Regions from separate parts of the Homo sapiens genome. Here all the other regions are reported to be linked to region 2. Evidence: microRNA targets listed by miRTarBase, many of them from high-throughput screens and not tested one by one. Region 2 holds a microRNA gene; each other region holds the end of a gene's coding sequence.
What was found. The annotated mature microRNA hsa-miR-1914-5p reads CCCUGUGCCCGGCCCACUUCUG and lies in region 2 at 1,656-1,677, opposite strand. An mRNA with a match to its seed (bases 2 to 7 or 8) in the 3' UTR can be bound and repressed. Matches are read on the target gene's strand: a 7mer-m8 pairs with bases 2 to 8, a 7mer-A1 pairs with bases 2 to 7 and ends in A, and an 8mer does both.

Region 1: the mRNA of ZNF253 is a reported target of hsa-miR-1914-5p. Seed matches in the 3' UTR shown: 7mer-A1 at 3,266-3,272.
Region 3: miRTarBase lists PAFAH2 as a target of hsa-miR-1914-5p. Seed matches in the 3' UTR shown: 7mer-m8 at 1,359-1,365 and 7mer-m8 at 1,505-1,511.

What each region holds. Positions count from the first base shown.
Region 1 is chr19:19,891,791-19,896,860 of GRCh38, reverse strand. It overlaps ZNF253 (zinc finger protein 253), which reads right to left. Exons shown (of 4, transcript NM_021047.3): 4 at 2,187-5,070. The coding sequence ends at 4,114. Among named protein-coding and RNA genes, the nearest start is that of ZNF93, 6.6 kb to the left of the region's middle.
Region 2 is chr20:63,939,856-63,944,929 of GRCh38, forward strand. It overlaps MIR1914 (microRNA 1914), which reads right to left and starts at 1,689; the gene lies at 1,610-1,689. It overlaps UCKL1 (uridine-cytidine kinase 1 like 1), which reads right to left. Exons shown (of 15, transcript NM_017859.4): 6 at 4,690-4,879; 7 at 4,542-4,603; 8 at 3,798-3,814; 9 at 1,255-1,353; 10 at 1,095-1,188; 11 at 939-1,001; 12 at 739-861; 13 at 523-630; 14 at 295-451; 15 at 1-200. The coding sequence ends at 121. MIR647 (microRNA 647) reads right to left here and starts at 2,871; the gene lies at 2,776-2,871. RefSeq lists enhancers at 2,463-3,176, 3,177-3,888.
Region 3 is chr1:25,957,636-25,962,705 of GRCh38, reverse strand. PAFAH2 (platelet activating factor acetylhydrolase 2) reads left to right here. Exons shown (of 11, transcript NM_000437.4): 11 at 623-2,939. The coding sequence ends at 717. Among named protein-coding and RNA genes, the nearest start is that of PAFAH2, 38 kb to the left of the region's middle.

The DNA of each region.
Region 1 (5,070 bases), not on the chromosome of region 2:
TCAAGGCTCTGCTGGTTTTATTAGTGATTATTTTTAAGACAGCTTGTAACCATATGATTCGGTTGATCATGTAAATGGGGGTCCGGTATCCCCATGAGCCATCTTGTGCCTAAGTAGCAGGCCTATAATATTGTATGATTCTCTCAGGGGGCCATTTATCATTTTTTCAATTTCTTATAGCTATGATTCTCTTTTCGCGGGAAGCGTAGACAGGGAAGCCAAGGAGTTTGCCTGTTTTTATGGGCAGTAGGAAGAAAGATGGTTTAATAGTGCCAATAACACAACTACCTGCCTACTGGTCAGTAATCTGTCATAAGCTCTATGCCTACATATCCAGTATAATCCAGTGGGGGCTGTCCAGTCCCGGTGGGACTCCAGGTGGGTCCAGTTTGCAACTTTGAGAATTTACTAAATTTTCTCTCTGTGTGATTTGAACTCCACCAAGTGATTGTTTTTGTGGTACCATTATACAGTTTCTGTCTCCGACAACTAAGTCATCCTACGCGGTGAGTGAATTCTTTTCCTTCTCTAGCTATGCAATATTGTTTAATAATTGAGGCTTTTAGGATCAGAAATTATCAGGGTGATTCTTTTGAGCCAGGAATTCATCAGGTACTGTAGGTACTAATTCTCAGGCTTCCCATGGCCATTGATCTCTTATTACAGCTTCTCCACATACATAACATGAAGTGACATTGAGAGACTGGGCTACATGCTTGGCTAATTGCAAAAACAAATTTCTTGTTTTTCCTGGAATTTCTGGTACTGGCACATTTAGTTCATCATAGAAAGTTTGAAACACTGGCTCAGGAGAGTCTTTGTAAGCTTCTCGAACCAAGATATTTACTCAAGGATCCAGTCTGGCCCCGTCGATTCCTAAGGTCACATGCTCCTCTTTTTTTCTAGCGAGGATCAAGGGGATTGGTTATGACTAGCTCTAAGGGGTTACATTGTCCCTGAGTACAGGAAGGGCCATTTTTTCCTTTCTGAAGGTGGGATGGATCTTTTTCATTTTTTTTTTTAATCCAAGTGGCCTAAATGACACAAGACCAGTGTTCACATTTATTTCCACACAGTGCTAATTTATGACAGTTGTATTTATTTTCTGCCATATAGCCTCTTTTCTAATTAAGAGAACCACACCTTATTCCTAACTTATTACTATTAATGACAGCACAGGCATCAAATTTTAAGGTGACTTGTTTGGGCACCCCTTTTTCTTCTGTTTTAGCTAACACTTTACTCATATCATTTATGAGCCCCAACCAGTCCTCAGTCCTTAATCTTATTTAAAAAACTGTCCCTCCAGGGTTCAAGCAATTCTCCTGCCTCAGCCTCCAGGCATGCACGACCACGTCCAGCTAATTTTTGTATTTTTAGTAGAGACGGGGTTTCACCATATTGGCCAGGCTGATCTTGAACTCCTGACCTCAGGCAATCCACCTGCTTCATTAAATTATGCACTAAAAGTGTATAATTACACTGTTTGTAATACAAATGATAAACGCTAGAGGTGACGGATATCTTATTTACCCTAATGAAATTTCTACATATTGTATGCCTGAATCAAAATATACCATATAAGGCATAAATATATACACATACAATATACCCACAAATACTAATAATAAATTTCAGTAAGAAAAAAATAGGCAGGGTGCGGTGGCTTATGCCTGTAATCCCAGCACTTTGGGAGGCCGAGGTGGGCGAATCACTTCAGGTCAGGAGTATGGGACCAGCCTGGCCAACATGGTGAAACCCCGTCTCTACTAAAAATACAAAAATTAACCAGGCATGGTGGCGCACACCTGTAATCTGAGAACTCCCACGTTCAAGCAATTCTCTTGCCTCAGCCTCCTGAATAGCTGGGATTACAGGCATGTGCCATCATGCCCAGCTAATTTTTGTATTTTTAGTAGAGGTGGGGTTTCTCAGTGTTGGTCAGGCTGGTCTCGATCTCCTGACCTCAAGTGATCCATCTGCCTCAGCCTCCCAAAGTGCTAGGATTACAGGCATGAGCCACTGCACCCATCCCATACAACTTTATATTTAAAGAACCATAAATATTATATTAAAACCTGTCTAAACCAATAAATATACCTGGCTGTATTTTAATATTTTTAACTATAATTAATAATTTCTTTCTGTCACTATAATGTAGAAAAGCATTACTCTGAAACCCCACCTTATTTTTTATCTTTGCTTATTAATAAAATAATTCATTATGATTTTTGAAAAAAAGTTTTAAGATGTTCCGCATACATGTTAATGTAGGTTAGACCATCCAAAAGACATTCAAAGCATCAACATTAAGTCATTGGCTAGGATTATAGAAATGAGAACATGAACCCCCACCTTACACATTACTTAATATCAGTTAACTACAAAGAGCCTCTCCACTTATATTTTCATCATGCATCTTACATTTTAATGTCCTTACTCTTTTATAGAAAAGGTCATACATAATGCCCAACTAATAAAAAACAATCTCTAATATCTCTAATGCAGCAACAATTGATCACATGCTTTCACATGTGAATATAATAGGAATAAAATAGCATAAAGCAATGTGAAAGCTGTATTATATCATTATTCACTTTTCAAAAAAATTTTTTCAAGAAAACAAGTATACTTTCAATGTAATTACAGTGCTTCAAAAATCCACTTTTTAAAAAATTATATAGAAATAATTTATCTAACAGCTGTAGCTGTGGATTAGTTTTTATACTGAACATTCTGATTTAGTGTAATGTCTGAAGTGTCAGTGCCTTAATTATTCTATGGAAAATTCTCTGATATTTACATAGAATCAATTTTGAATTAAATATTTTTTGATATTTACTGCATCTGCAAAAATATATTTTGGTATAAACCCTCTGGTGTTTTCTAAGCTGTCATTTTTGGAAAAGAAAAGTCTTTCCATTCATTACATTTGCAGTACTATTCTCAATATAAATTCCCTTGATTCCCTGAAACAAAGCTTGAGCAACTGCTTCAGGGTTTTCCTCTAGTACTACATGTGTGCACTAAGATCTGTGACACAAGTAAAGGCACTACAACCCCCTTTATATTTGTAATGGCTGTCTTCAGAATAAATATTCTTCACTTTAAAGACTTCTATTTTCTGAAAGATTTTTTGACAGTAATTGCACTTTTAATGCTTTATTAACTATGAACCTTCTTCTGTTCAGTAAGATGTGAGTAGGCATTAATGGTTTTTCCATATTCTTTGTATTTGCACAATTTTTCTCAAGGATAAGAGCTTTCCTGTGAAATAAGGTATAAGCACTAATAAAATATTTTGCCACATTCTTCACACTTACAGGAGTTTTGGCAGTATGACTTCTATCACCTACAATCATGTATGACAATCATATAAAGGCTTTGTCACATTTTATACATTTCTAGGGTATTACACTAGTATAATTTATTTTTATGTATAGGAAATGTGGAGGTGTTGGTAAAAGCAATGTCGCATCTTTCAGGTTTCCAGATTTCCTCTTCAGCATGAATTATCGCCATGTCTCTTAAGAATTAAGAACTTGTAGCCAGGCATGGTGTCTCTTAAGAATTAAGAACTTGTAGCCAGGCATGGTGGCTCACGCCTGTAACCCCAGCACTTTGGAAGGCCAAGGCAGGTGGATCACCTGAGGTCAGGAGTTCGAGACCAGCCTGGCCAACATTGTGAAACCCCATCTCTACTAAAAATCCAAAAATTAGCCAGGCGTGGTGTTGGGCACCTGTAATCCCAGCTACTTGGGAGGCTGAGGCAGAAGAATGGCTTAAACCCAGGAGGCAGAGATTGCAGTGAACGGAGATCATGTCATTGCACTCCAGCCTCGGTGACAAGAGTGAAACTCCATCTCAAAAAAAAAGGAATTGAGAACTTGTTATAGGTTTATAGGTTTTGCCACATTCTTCACACTTGTAGGGCTTCTGTTTGGTATGAATTATGTGTAATAAGGGTTGAGAACTTCCTTAAAAAGCTTTGTCACATTCTTTATATTTGTAGGGTTTGTGTTCCATATAAACTCTCAAATTTACTAAGAGTCGAGGGCTGGTTAAAGGCTTTCCCACATTCATCACATTCATAGGGTTTCTCTCCAGTATGAATTATCTTATGCTAATTAAAAGTGGAGGAACATTTAAAAGATCTGTCACATTCTTCACTATGTAGGGTTTTCGTTCAATATGAATTTTCTTATGTTTATTAAGGTCTGAGGACCAGTTAAAAGCTTTGCCACATTCTTCACATTTGTAAGGTTTCTCTCCAGTATGAATTCTCTTATGTGTAGTTAGAGTTGAGGATGCAGTAAAGGATTTGCCACATTCTTCACATTTGTAGGGTTTCTCTCCAGTATGAGTTCTTTTATGTTTGGAGAGGATTGAGGGCCAGGTAAAGGTTTTGCCACATTCATCACATTTGTAGGGTTTCTCTCCAGTATGAATTTTCTCATGTGAAAAAAGGGTTGTGGAATGGTTAAAAGCTTTGCCACATTCTCTACATCTGTAGGGTTTCTCTCCAGTATGAAGTATCTTATGTGTAGTAAGGTGTGAGGATAGGTGAAAGGCTTTGCCACATTCTTCACATTTGTAGGGTTTCTCTCCTGTATGAATTCTCTTATGTATAGTAAGGTTAGAGCAGTGCTTAAAGGATTTGCCACATTCTTCACAGTTGTAGGGTTTCCCTCTAGTATGAATTTTCTTATGTGTGGTAACGTGTGAGGGGTGCTTAAAGGCTTTGCCACATTCTTCACATTTGTAGGGTTTCTCTCCAGTATGAACTATCTTATGTGTAGTAAGGTCTGTGGATCGGTTGAAGGCTTTGCCACATTCTTCACATTTGTAGGGTTTCTCTCCAGTATGAATTTTCTTATGTGTAGTAAGGTTTGAGGACTGCTTAAAGGCTTTGCCACATTCTTCACATCTGTAGGGTTTCTCTCCGGTATGAATTCTCTTATGTGTAGTAAGGTTTGCAGATTGGTTAAAAGCTTTGCCACATTCTTCACATCTGTAAGGTTTCTCTCCAGTATGAATTTTCTTATGTGTAGTAAGGGTTGAGGACCGTTT
Region 2 (5,074 bases):
TATAAAATGCATAGAATAAATTATACTAGTAACATTTTAAAAATTAACATCTTTGTATTCAGCAGTCCTGGGTCAGGAGGCAGGAGGAGGGTGGTGGGGACGGGATGGCTCACTGGGCAGCTAACCCGTGTAGGCCACTTCCTCCTCGTCACTGCCATCGGGGACCGCGTCTGTCCCAAAGTAGCGGTCGCCAAAGTTCCCTGGAAAAAGGGGGGGGGGGGTCCAGTGTGGTGGGGCCTCCCAGGGCCACCCACCCTGCCCTCATGTGCGGCTGAAGGGCCCGGGCAGCCTCACCAATGCCTGGGATGATGCGGAAAAGGTCATTGACCCGCTTGTCCACCGCCGTGGTGATGATTCTCACTCGCGGAAATGCATAGGCCACTGAGTGCACGCCCATCTCTGCCATGAGCAGCGACAGCAAAAAGATCTTGTCCTCAGGCACGTCGTGGTCCTACCGAGTGTATTGGGCAGGTAAATCCCACCTCTGCCTGAACCTGCCCCGCCTACCCAGGGCTCACTCACCAGGAGCACGCGCACTGCCATCATGGCCGCCGCGCCCGTGGACACGGTGCAGTCCATGAGGATCACGTGGTCATCGCTGATGTCCTTGGGCAGCCTCAGGTAGTGGAGCTGCGGGCAGCAGGGGTCAGGCTGCAGGTGGGGCTCCCTGCGTCCCCTTGCTGTGAGCTCCCTCTGCCCCCTACCCCCGGGCTCATCACCCCGGCTGCCCCCAGGCACCTCGGGCTCCCCGGTAAGCTGGTTGGTCTGGATGAGGATGGTGCCGATGCGCACGTCTTTGCACACAGCGCGCAGCGCGGGCTCCATGGTTTCACCGGCGCGCAGAATGGACACACCGGTGATCTGCGGGGAGGGGAGGCTAAGCGCCCACATCCCGCCCCAGCAGCCTGTCCCGCGCCCAGGTGTGCCCAGGCAGGTACCTGCTTCCCCGCATAGCACTTGCCCGCATAGTCCTGCCCCTGCGGGGTCTGTACGACGCAGTCCTGTGGGGTGCAGGGTGAGGACTCCGGTGAGCGCAGGGAGCTCGCACCGGCTCCAAGACCCACCCTCCACCTCGCGGGCTACGGGCTACGAACCTGAAAGGGCAGGAAGGAGAGCGCGTGCTCGATGAGCAGCCGCATCAGTCTCTTGGAGTAGAAGATGAACTCGTCGCGACTGGTCTCCTTGTCCCTGTGGGGCCAACAGTTGAGCGGGAGCACGCGCCCGGGGCCGCCCCGTCCCCAGGTGGGCCCTCACCTGATGATGGTGTGCATGCCCCGTACCTGCGGCGTGCTCTTCAGGACGCTCAGCGTCCGGGGCAGCGGGTGGCACTGGTGTGCCGAGGCCAGCGCAGCCCTGGGGACAAACCGATGGGGAACACTCAAGAAGGGGGTCTTTTCCCAGAGCCCTCCCTCCCCACAGGACGGCTGTGCGTCACTGTGAGGGGAACACACGGGCCAGGCACAGCACGAGGTGCAGAGCGGGCCTGACTTCTGCCTGGGGCTGAGCTGGGGGGAGACGTCGCCCTACCTGAGCTGTCAGGCAAAGGCGAAAGATGGCGGCGAACAACGGGGCAAGCTCACCATCAGGCAGAAAGCTAGCGGGGTAGGCTGTGAGGGCCCCTCCCAGTGCGGGACCCCTCCTGCGCTAAGAGGAAGCAGAAGTGGGCCGGGCACAGGGCGGGCTCACACGTGCTGATAGGTGTCATACCCCAGAATGGGTAGCTTGTCCCCAGCCTCTCCCCGGGGGAACTAAAGCTTTGTGGGGTCAGGCCCCGCCCTGGCTCCTCCCCGAGGTGGTGCGCGGCCCCTCAAGAGAGGGGGGTGGGGGGCAAAGCTGGCTCAGTGTCTCTTGGCTGTCCCGTCCCGCCCCGCTGCCCAAGCCTGGGGATGGCCGGGGCAGCAGCAGGTCTAGGAGCGGGCAGGAAAAGGGCGGGGTGGAGGCAAGAAAGAGGTGGGACAGGGAGGAGGCAAAGCCGGAAAGGGGCATGACAGGGGCAGGGAATGGGGCGGGGCAGGAAAGGGGGTGATGCAGGGGCAGGAAGAGGAAAGCGACAGGCCACAGAATTGGGTGTGGCAGGGGAAGGAAAGAGGCAGGGCACGGAATTGGGTGTGGCAGGGCAGAAAAGAGGCGTGACAGCGGCAGGGAAAGGGGCGGGGCCGGGAATGGGGTGTGGCAGGGCAGAAAAGAGGCGTGACAGCGGCAGGGAAAGGGGCGGGGCCGGGAATGGGGTGTGGCAGGGCAGAAAAGAGGCGTGACAGCGGCAGGGAAAGGGGCGGGGCCGGGAATGGGGTGTGGCAGGGCAGAAAAGAGGCGTGACAGCGGCAGGGAAAGGGGCGGGGCCGGGAATGGGGTGTGGCAGGGCAGAAAAGAGGCGTGACAGCGGCAGGGAAAGGGGCGGGGCCGGGAATGGGGTGTGGCAGGGCAGAAAAGAGGCGTGACAGCGGCAGGGAAAGGGGCGGGGCCGGAAATGGGGTGTGGCAGGGCAGAAAAGAGGCGTGACAGCGGCAGGGAAAGGGGCGGGGCAGGAGCAGGAAAGAGGGCCTAGCGGGAGCAGCGGGGCAAGGGGCTACGGGAAGGCGGGTCACACAGCAGCACCACGGAGCACACTGCTCACATATCCCAACGTAGCTTCCTCTGCTTGCCAGGTGAAGAGCATGTTCAGGGAGGGAACAAGGCAGGAAACGGGGGTTTACAGAGAGAAGGAAGAGAACAAAGAGAAGGCTGCTTAGTTGGGGAGCAGGGCGTTCCCCGCAGGCCTGAGGAGGAGTGTGGGCGGTCAGGCCCCCAGCCCTGCCTGACCCTCCCTCCTGCCCCCGACCAAGGCTTCCTGGGGCTGAAGGAAGTGAGTGCAGCCACAGGCCAACACTTCCTTGGCTGACCAGACGACGGAAAATGTGTCTGGCTGCGTTCAGGTGTTTTTCCAAGTTTGAAACCCTGGAAAGTTTTTCCTCTCAGAACAAAAGCTTCAGGAGGAACCTGACGGGACAAGACCTGCGGGTTCCTAGGCCGAGGAGAGGGCCAAGCGGAGACTCATGCAGGCACCGGAAGCTGGACGGCTGGTGGACGGGCCCTGGAGGCATTTCCAACATTTGGCAAACTCTTTGGAGGGCTCTGAATGTGAGGGCTCTCCCTCCAGGTGGCTCAGTCAGGAGCCTCCCAACCCACAGAAGGCAGGGAGAAGGGCAGGTCCCTTGTGGCTGACCCCCCTGCATGCCTGCCCTTGGGGAGGGACAGTGGGATGCGGCCCCGGCCCAGCCCAAGCTTCTTGCTGCAGTTGCCCAGTTCCTGCTGGCAGAGCTGTGCGGGCTGCGAGGACAGAGCTGGGGCAAGCAGGACCCGGGTGGGTGGGAGGACAGGCGCGAGGCCCTCCACCTGCAACCAGGGAAAGCTGACTGGTCCGTGAGGCTGGGCACAGGAGGTACAGCAGGCTCCCTGGCTGCTGGGACATGTCTGTAGTCACTGCCCCAGAGGCCTGGCAGTGCTGGCTCAGGAGGACAGCTGTGCTCTCTGGGGTCAAATCCCATAGACAGACTCAGGAGTCAGGGGAGCCTCCAGCAAAGTCTGGCCAGGACAGGGTCAGGACTCCGTGACGCTGGGCAAGCTACTTCACGTCTCTGTGCCTCAGTGTCCTCATCTGCCAGCAAGGGGAGGCAGAAGCAGGGCTGGGACCACTCCACACCACCCCTTCTGTGACTGGGGAAGAGCCAGCTGCCTGGCTGGATCACAGCCCAGACCCCAGAGCTCCTTGGAGGTGTTGGAAGTGCCTCCATCTGTGCAGACAGCTGTGCAAGTCTTACCTGACGCTGAGTTCACGCTGTGGCAGCAACACAGGAAGACACAAGGGAACGGTGGCGCGTCAGTGACCAGGGCAGGCGGCCAGGCCACCCCCACCCAGGAATGGACATGCTGCAGGCCCGCGGGGACACAGCCAGCCATGGGGGGTGGCAAGCTTCTAATGCCTGTAACCTGGGGACCACCTGGGCCAGACCTGCAGTTCTGCGTTGGGGCAATCAGAGCCAGGACCCTGGGCTCTGTTCTGCAGGCCTCAGGCCTTCAACATCCTGGTAGGGAGTGTGTTCAGAGCCACTCAGGCTCCAAGGCCCAGCCATAGAATGCCTCAGGGAGCAGGGGACCTCTGGTGGGGGTGTCGCTCCTGGGGTGACCCCCTGAGAAAGAGAGGAGCCTGGCCTGGCGTGGGACTCAGCAGTGAAACCCCACAATCCTGGGCCAGCAGGTCATGCCTGTCTTCCCAAAAGCTCAGGCTGGGTGTGCTGAGCGGGCTGCACCCTCGGCTGGGTCCTGAGCACCTGTACCCCCACCCCAGCTTCCTCAGGGAACCCAGGCCCTGCACAGCACAACGGGATGGGGTCTGGGCTGGACAATCTGACTGGCCAAGCAGGCTCAGGACACTCAGGGCTGGCACCTGGCAGGGGACAGTGAACGCAGGGGGATGAGGTGACCAGGCCACTGGGGGTGGTGGCAGCGGAGAAGTGGGTAGAGGGGCTGGGGGCTAGGCCGTGGGGACGTGGGACCCCGCTCACCTCCTCCAGCTGGCTGTGCACGTGCTGCACAATCAGGTCGATGGCCACCGTGTTGCCGCTCCCTGGGGCGGGATGGGGGGGCGGGTGACCGGGGGCTGGGCCGTTGGCCTGCCCGACACCCACCCAACAGGCAGCCCAGCAGGCTCACCTCTGGGGACCACGATGTCTGCCAGGCGCATGGTGGGCTGGATGTACTGGTCGAAGGAGGGCTTGACAAACTTGTTGTACTGCTTGATGACACCCTCGATGTCCCGGCCGCGCTCACTGATGTCCCGGCGCAGCCGCCGTACCAGGCGGATGTCGGAGTCTGTGTCCACAAAGATCTTCATGTCCAGGAGCTGGTGGAGACAGCGGGCCAGTGAGTGGCCAGATGCCAGCAGTGGGCATGGAGACACTGGGACCAGCCCCTGCACTGAGGCCGCCTGGTCCGTGGGCCTGGCCAGAGCCACTTCCCCAGGGCACCCTGGCAGGTGGGGAGGAGTGGGGAGGTGGGGGTGTCTGCACCTGGTCCGTGGGCCTGGCCCGAGCCACTT
Region 3 (5,070 bases), not on the chromosome of region 2:
CTTCAGGCACACACCACCATACCTAGCTAATTTCTTAATTTTTTTGTAGAGTTGAGGTCTTGCTACGTTGCCCAGGCTGGTCTAGGAACTCCTAGCCTCAAGTGATCCTCTTGCCTCAGCCTCCCAAAGCACTAGGGTTACAGGCATAAGCCACCATGCCCAGCCCTCTCTGCCTTTCTGACTTGGATTTGAATTCTGTCTCTACCACTTAATAGCTCTAATGACCTTGGGCAACTCAGGTAGCTTCCCTGATCCTCAGTTTCCTGAATTACATAATAAGATTAGTATTAATACTTAGTTCATAGGGATATGGTGAAAATTAAATGAAACCATGAATGTAAAGCATTTAGTACAATCCTTAGAATGAATTCTCCATCAATAAATGTTACCCTCTGTTATTATTATCGTTATTGAATTGTTATGGATTATGTAAGTCATTTATAAAGGCACTGAATAAATGATAGTTATCGTTACCGCCACCACCACACAACCCCACCAAAACCAGTCCTTTTGGTATCCCAGGCGCTCCTCTCTCTAGGATGACCCCTTCAATGCATGTCAGCTACTCTTTGACCAAACCTCACAATGATTTGCCTAATGTTCCTGTTTTTTTCCTTTTCAGACCTGAAAGAAGACTATAATCAATGGAACAACCTTATTGAAGGCATTGGACCGTCGCTCACCCCAGGGGCCCCCCACCATCTGTCCAGCCTGTAGGCACAACTGGCCATTTGTAAAGTCACTTCAGCCAAGTTTTCATTTGGGAGCTACCCAAGGGCACCCATGAGCTCCTATCAAGAAGTGATCAACGTGACCCCTTTTCACAGATTGAAAGGTGTAATCACACTGCTGCTTGGATAACTGGGTACTTTGATCTTAGATTTGATCTTAAAATCACTTTGGGACTGGGATCCCTTGCTGATTGACAAACAGACTTTCTGGGACCTTGATGGAGTGGGGAACAAGCAGTAGAGTGGGACTGGGGGAGACCCAGGCCCCGGGCTGAGCACTGTGAGGCCTGGATGTGAAGACTCAGCCCAGCGAAGCTCATTCCCTTACCCCCGGCCAGTGCTGCTGCTTCAGTGGAAGAGATGAAGCCAAAGGACAGAATGAAAATCCCTACCTTCAGAGACTCTAGCCCAGCCCAACACCATCTCTTCCTACCTCTCAGCCTTCTCCCTCCCCAGGGCCACTTGTTGAAGTCTGAGCACTTTATGTAAATTTCTAGGTGTGAGCCGTGATCACATTTTCTATTTATTTCCAAGTCTTCTCATTGTATGGAACATAGTACTACTTATACTTACAGTAGTAAGTTATACTTGTGAGCCCACAGAGTGGCAGACAGCATGGCTCTCACAGCACAGGGAGAAAAACTGAGGTACACAGAGGTACCTCAGAAGCTCTGGATGTCTTTGGGGGTTTTGCTAAGTGTATCTTGATAGGAAACAACAAAAGCAGGTTGAGATGGGGAAGATGACAGAACAACAGTGTTAAATGGCCATTTGCACAGGCCTTTGCCACAACAGAGAAGTAGTTTGGTCAGCTAAAACTCAGCTGCAGCCTGGACAGTAGAGCGAGACCCCATCTTAAAAATAAAGAAGGCTGGGCGTGGTGGCTCATGCCTGTAATCCCAACACTTTGGGAGGCCAAGGCAGGCAGATCACTTAAGGCCAGGAGTTCAAGACCACCTGGCCAACATGGTGAAACCCCGTCTCTACTAAAAATACAAAAAATTAGCCTGGCGTAATGGCAGGCGCCTATAATCCCAGCTACTCAGGAGGCTGAAGCAGAAGAATCACTTGAACCTAGGAGGCGGAGGTTGCAGTGAGTCAAGATCGCGCCACTGCACTCCAGCCTGGGTGACAGAGCAAGACTCTGTCTTAAAAAAAAAAAAAAGAAAAAGAAAAATTTAAAATAAATAAAATTTAAAAACGCAGAAGGCCACTCCCAGAGAGGCCTAGGAGTACCTTGGTCATTTTTTCTTGCCTCAAATATTATAAACCTCCAACTTGCTCAGAATCAGGGTGCTTTTATTGTCTGTTTTCTGGCTCTGAGGCCCTTGCCCCAAATTTAAGTCAGATACAGACTGAATTTCCATTCTGTTCTGTTTATAATATGAATGATATTAATACTCTTGTTTGCTTAATGTTATGTTGGAATTTTCTGTTTAATCTGCAGTAGAGCAAGATGGAGAGCCATCTGGAATTGACTTCCTTCTGTCTTTCTTCTGTGTTCGCTTACTACTTGGGCCCATGTGGGAAAAAAACTTTAAAAGGAAGGAAGTCTTCTTAGGGATCCAGTTCAAAGCTATTTGGGGGCATCAAACTGAAACTCTCTTCTCCACTACTCAAGACTTCGTGCCTCAGTCCAAGTAGGTAAGAGCAAAAGGGAAATGCATCTCTACACAATGGCCCATGGTCAGGGCCACCAGAGCAAGCTGGGCCTAGATCTCCACCTGTCAGTGACTGGCCATTCTAAGAGGTGAAACAGCAGATCGTTGAGGCTGTGAGGGAGGATCTTTGAATTCCCATGAGACATAGCATAAGAAGGGTATCATTAAAGCCCTGGGCTCTAAAGTTACAGAGCCTGGTTTTGAGTCCTGGCTCCACCACTGCCAACTGGGTAAATTTGAGCAAATGGTATTCTCTTTCTTATCTCAGCTCCTGCGTTTCTAAAATGAGGGTCTGCGTTATGAATAGTTAGGAGGATTAAGTGAGAGGATGTATAACCCATGGGTTACTTAAAAGTATATTTCCTACCTTCCAAACATGAGATTTTTCTAGTTATAGTTTCTTTTCTAGCTTGATTGCTTTGTGGTCAGAGAAAATGACCCATATGGTTTCCATCCTTCAAAATTTGTTGAAACTTGGTTGTTGGCCTAGTATGAGATCAATGTTGTAAATGTGCCATGTATGTTTAAAAAGACTATATATTCTGAAGAAGTTGTTGGCTTGCTCTTTTACTCAAGAACACATCATAGATTTCTGTCTTTTTTTTTTGAGATGCAGTCTCACTCTGTCACCCAGACTGGAGTGCAGTAGCATGATCTCGGCTTACTGCAACCTTCGCCTCCCAGATTCAAGCAATTCTCCTGTCTCAGCCTTCTGAGAAGCTGGGACTACAAGTGCACGCCACCACACCCAGCTAATTTTTGTATTTTTTTAGTAGAGATGGGGTTTCACCATATTGGTCAGGCTGGTCGCAAACTCCTGACCTCAGATGATCCACCTGCCTCGGCCTCCCAAAGGGCTGGGATTACAGGCATGAGCCACCGTGCCGAGCCCATAGATTTCCTTCTATGAGAGCACAGACAGATATATAATGGGGCCTTCCAACTACCACATGGGCACCAGAGACCCTCAGCACTTGCAGAACCAGCCGTAGGCCAATCCTGAGCATACGCCACCCTTGTGCTGATTCCACAAATGCTGAGAGGCCGGTTCTGGCAGTAGCAGCATGTGAGACCCAGGTTCTACCTTAGCTCCATAAATAACACAGGTAAATTTTACAAAACCATGAACAAGAGACCTGGAGCCTCCCTAGTGAAGGGAGTGTTCCAGAAACTAGATCCCTTTCCTTCATTCAATTCATGTTCTGGTAATCACTCATTTATCCAGCAAACACTAGAGTATGTGAATTTTCCATATAATTGAAAATTATCCTAGAGGCAGCAAAATATAATATTGATTATTTTGAATGGTAATCTACCAAAAAGATAATACACACACTTTTTAATCAAAGTGAGCTGACCTCGTTCAACCTTTTAGGATGTTCCAGTCAGGATAGACTAGGTTGTATGGTGGTAACAGGCAATCCCAAAAGCAACAAAAGTTTATTTCTTGCCCATGCCACTTGTGCTCTTTGATCGGCTGCAGGCTCTGCTCTGCATCATTTTTATCCTCACTCTAGGATCCAGGCTGGTAGAGCTGCCATTATCAGAAAGTGTTGCTGTTCACCATGGTGGAACAGGAAGAAAGCCTGATGAATCACCCGCTAGCTCTGAGAGCTTCTGCCCGGGAGTGACTCTCGTTATTTCTATTCATGTGTCATAAGCCAAAGCACGTCCTGTGGCCATTCCTAACATCCCAAGAAAGCCAAAATATTTGTGACCAGGTCTCATGTCAGAGAAGTGGTGTCCTCTGATCTAGGAAGGTGCAGAAAGCTGTTTGGCTTGCATGGGGTTGCCCCCTGTGCTGCGTTGCTGTTCAGAGTTGGTGTTGTCTCATTTGTGGTCAGGCTGCAACCATCGCTCTTCAACGCACCAGCCCCTAGCAGCCCTCCCTGGCCACTTCAAGTTTATGACTTTCGATGCGCAATGGACTGATAAATCAGCCACATTATTTAAAACTCTGTCTAAGGGAAAACAAGGCAGTCAGTGAGCAAGGGTTTTAGGGACTCCCTTGCAGCTAAAGTATGTCACCTTTAGCGCATGGGCTTCGTAATCCTCTGACTGCTCCAGAAGGGGTATCACAAGGCCTTTGGTCTCTCATTCTGGTTTTTGGTTAGCTTCCAGGGGCCTGAAGGATACTTCATAAATGGCCTTTAGATAAGCAAGGAAATCCTGATGATAACTGACATGTGCTGATAAATTGCATCCTAGTGAATCTTTTCCAGAAAGAGGATGTCTTGGGTTTCTTTTCTTTTTTTTTTTTTTTTTAGTAGAGGCGGGGTTTCACTGTGTTAGCCAGGATGGTCTTGATCTCCTGACCTCGTGATCCACCCGCCTCGGCCTCCCAAAGTGCTGGGATTACAGGCATGAGCCACCGCGCCCGGCCTGTCTTGGGTTTCTTTGGCATCTTCTCATTCCCCATCCCGCTGCAAGACTCTGTGCCTATGGAGGCCTCCTAGTGGTATAATGTGAAGTTTCTGTGCATGGGATGGCAAGCCAGTTAGGAAGGAAGGTAAGTAAATATCCCTTCCACTTCCTGGACTTCAGACTAAGGCTGGTTGGATTCTTGCTGTGTCCCTAATGCAATCCCCGAGCCCCTTCCACTGTGCATTCTGACACAGCTGCCCCTCTTGTCCTTCCTCAAAAATTCTATTGGGCTCTTGAAATGTCAAATGATGGAT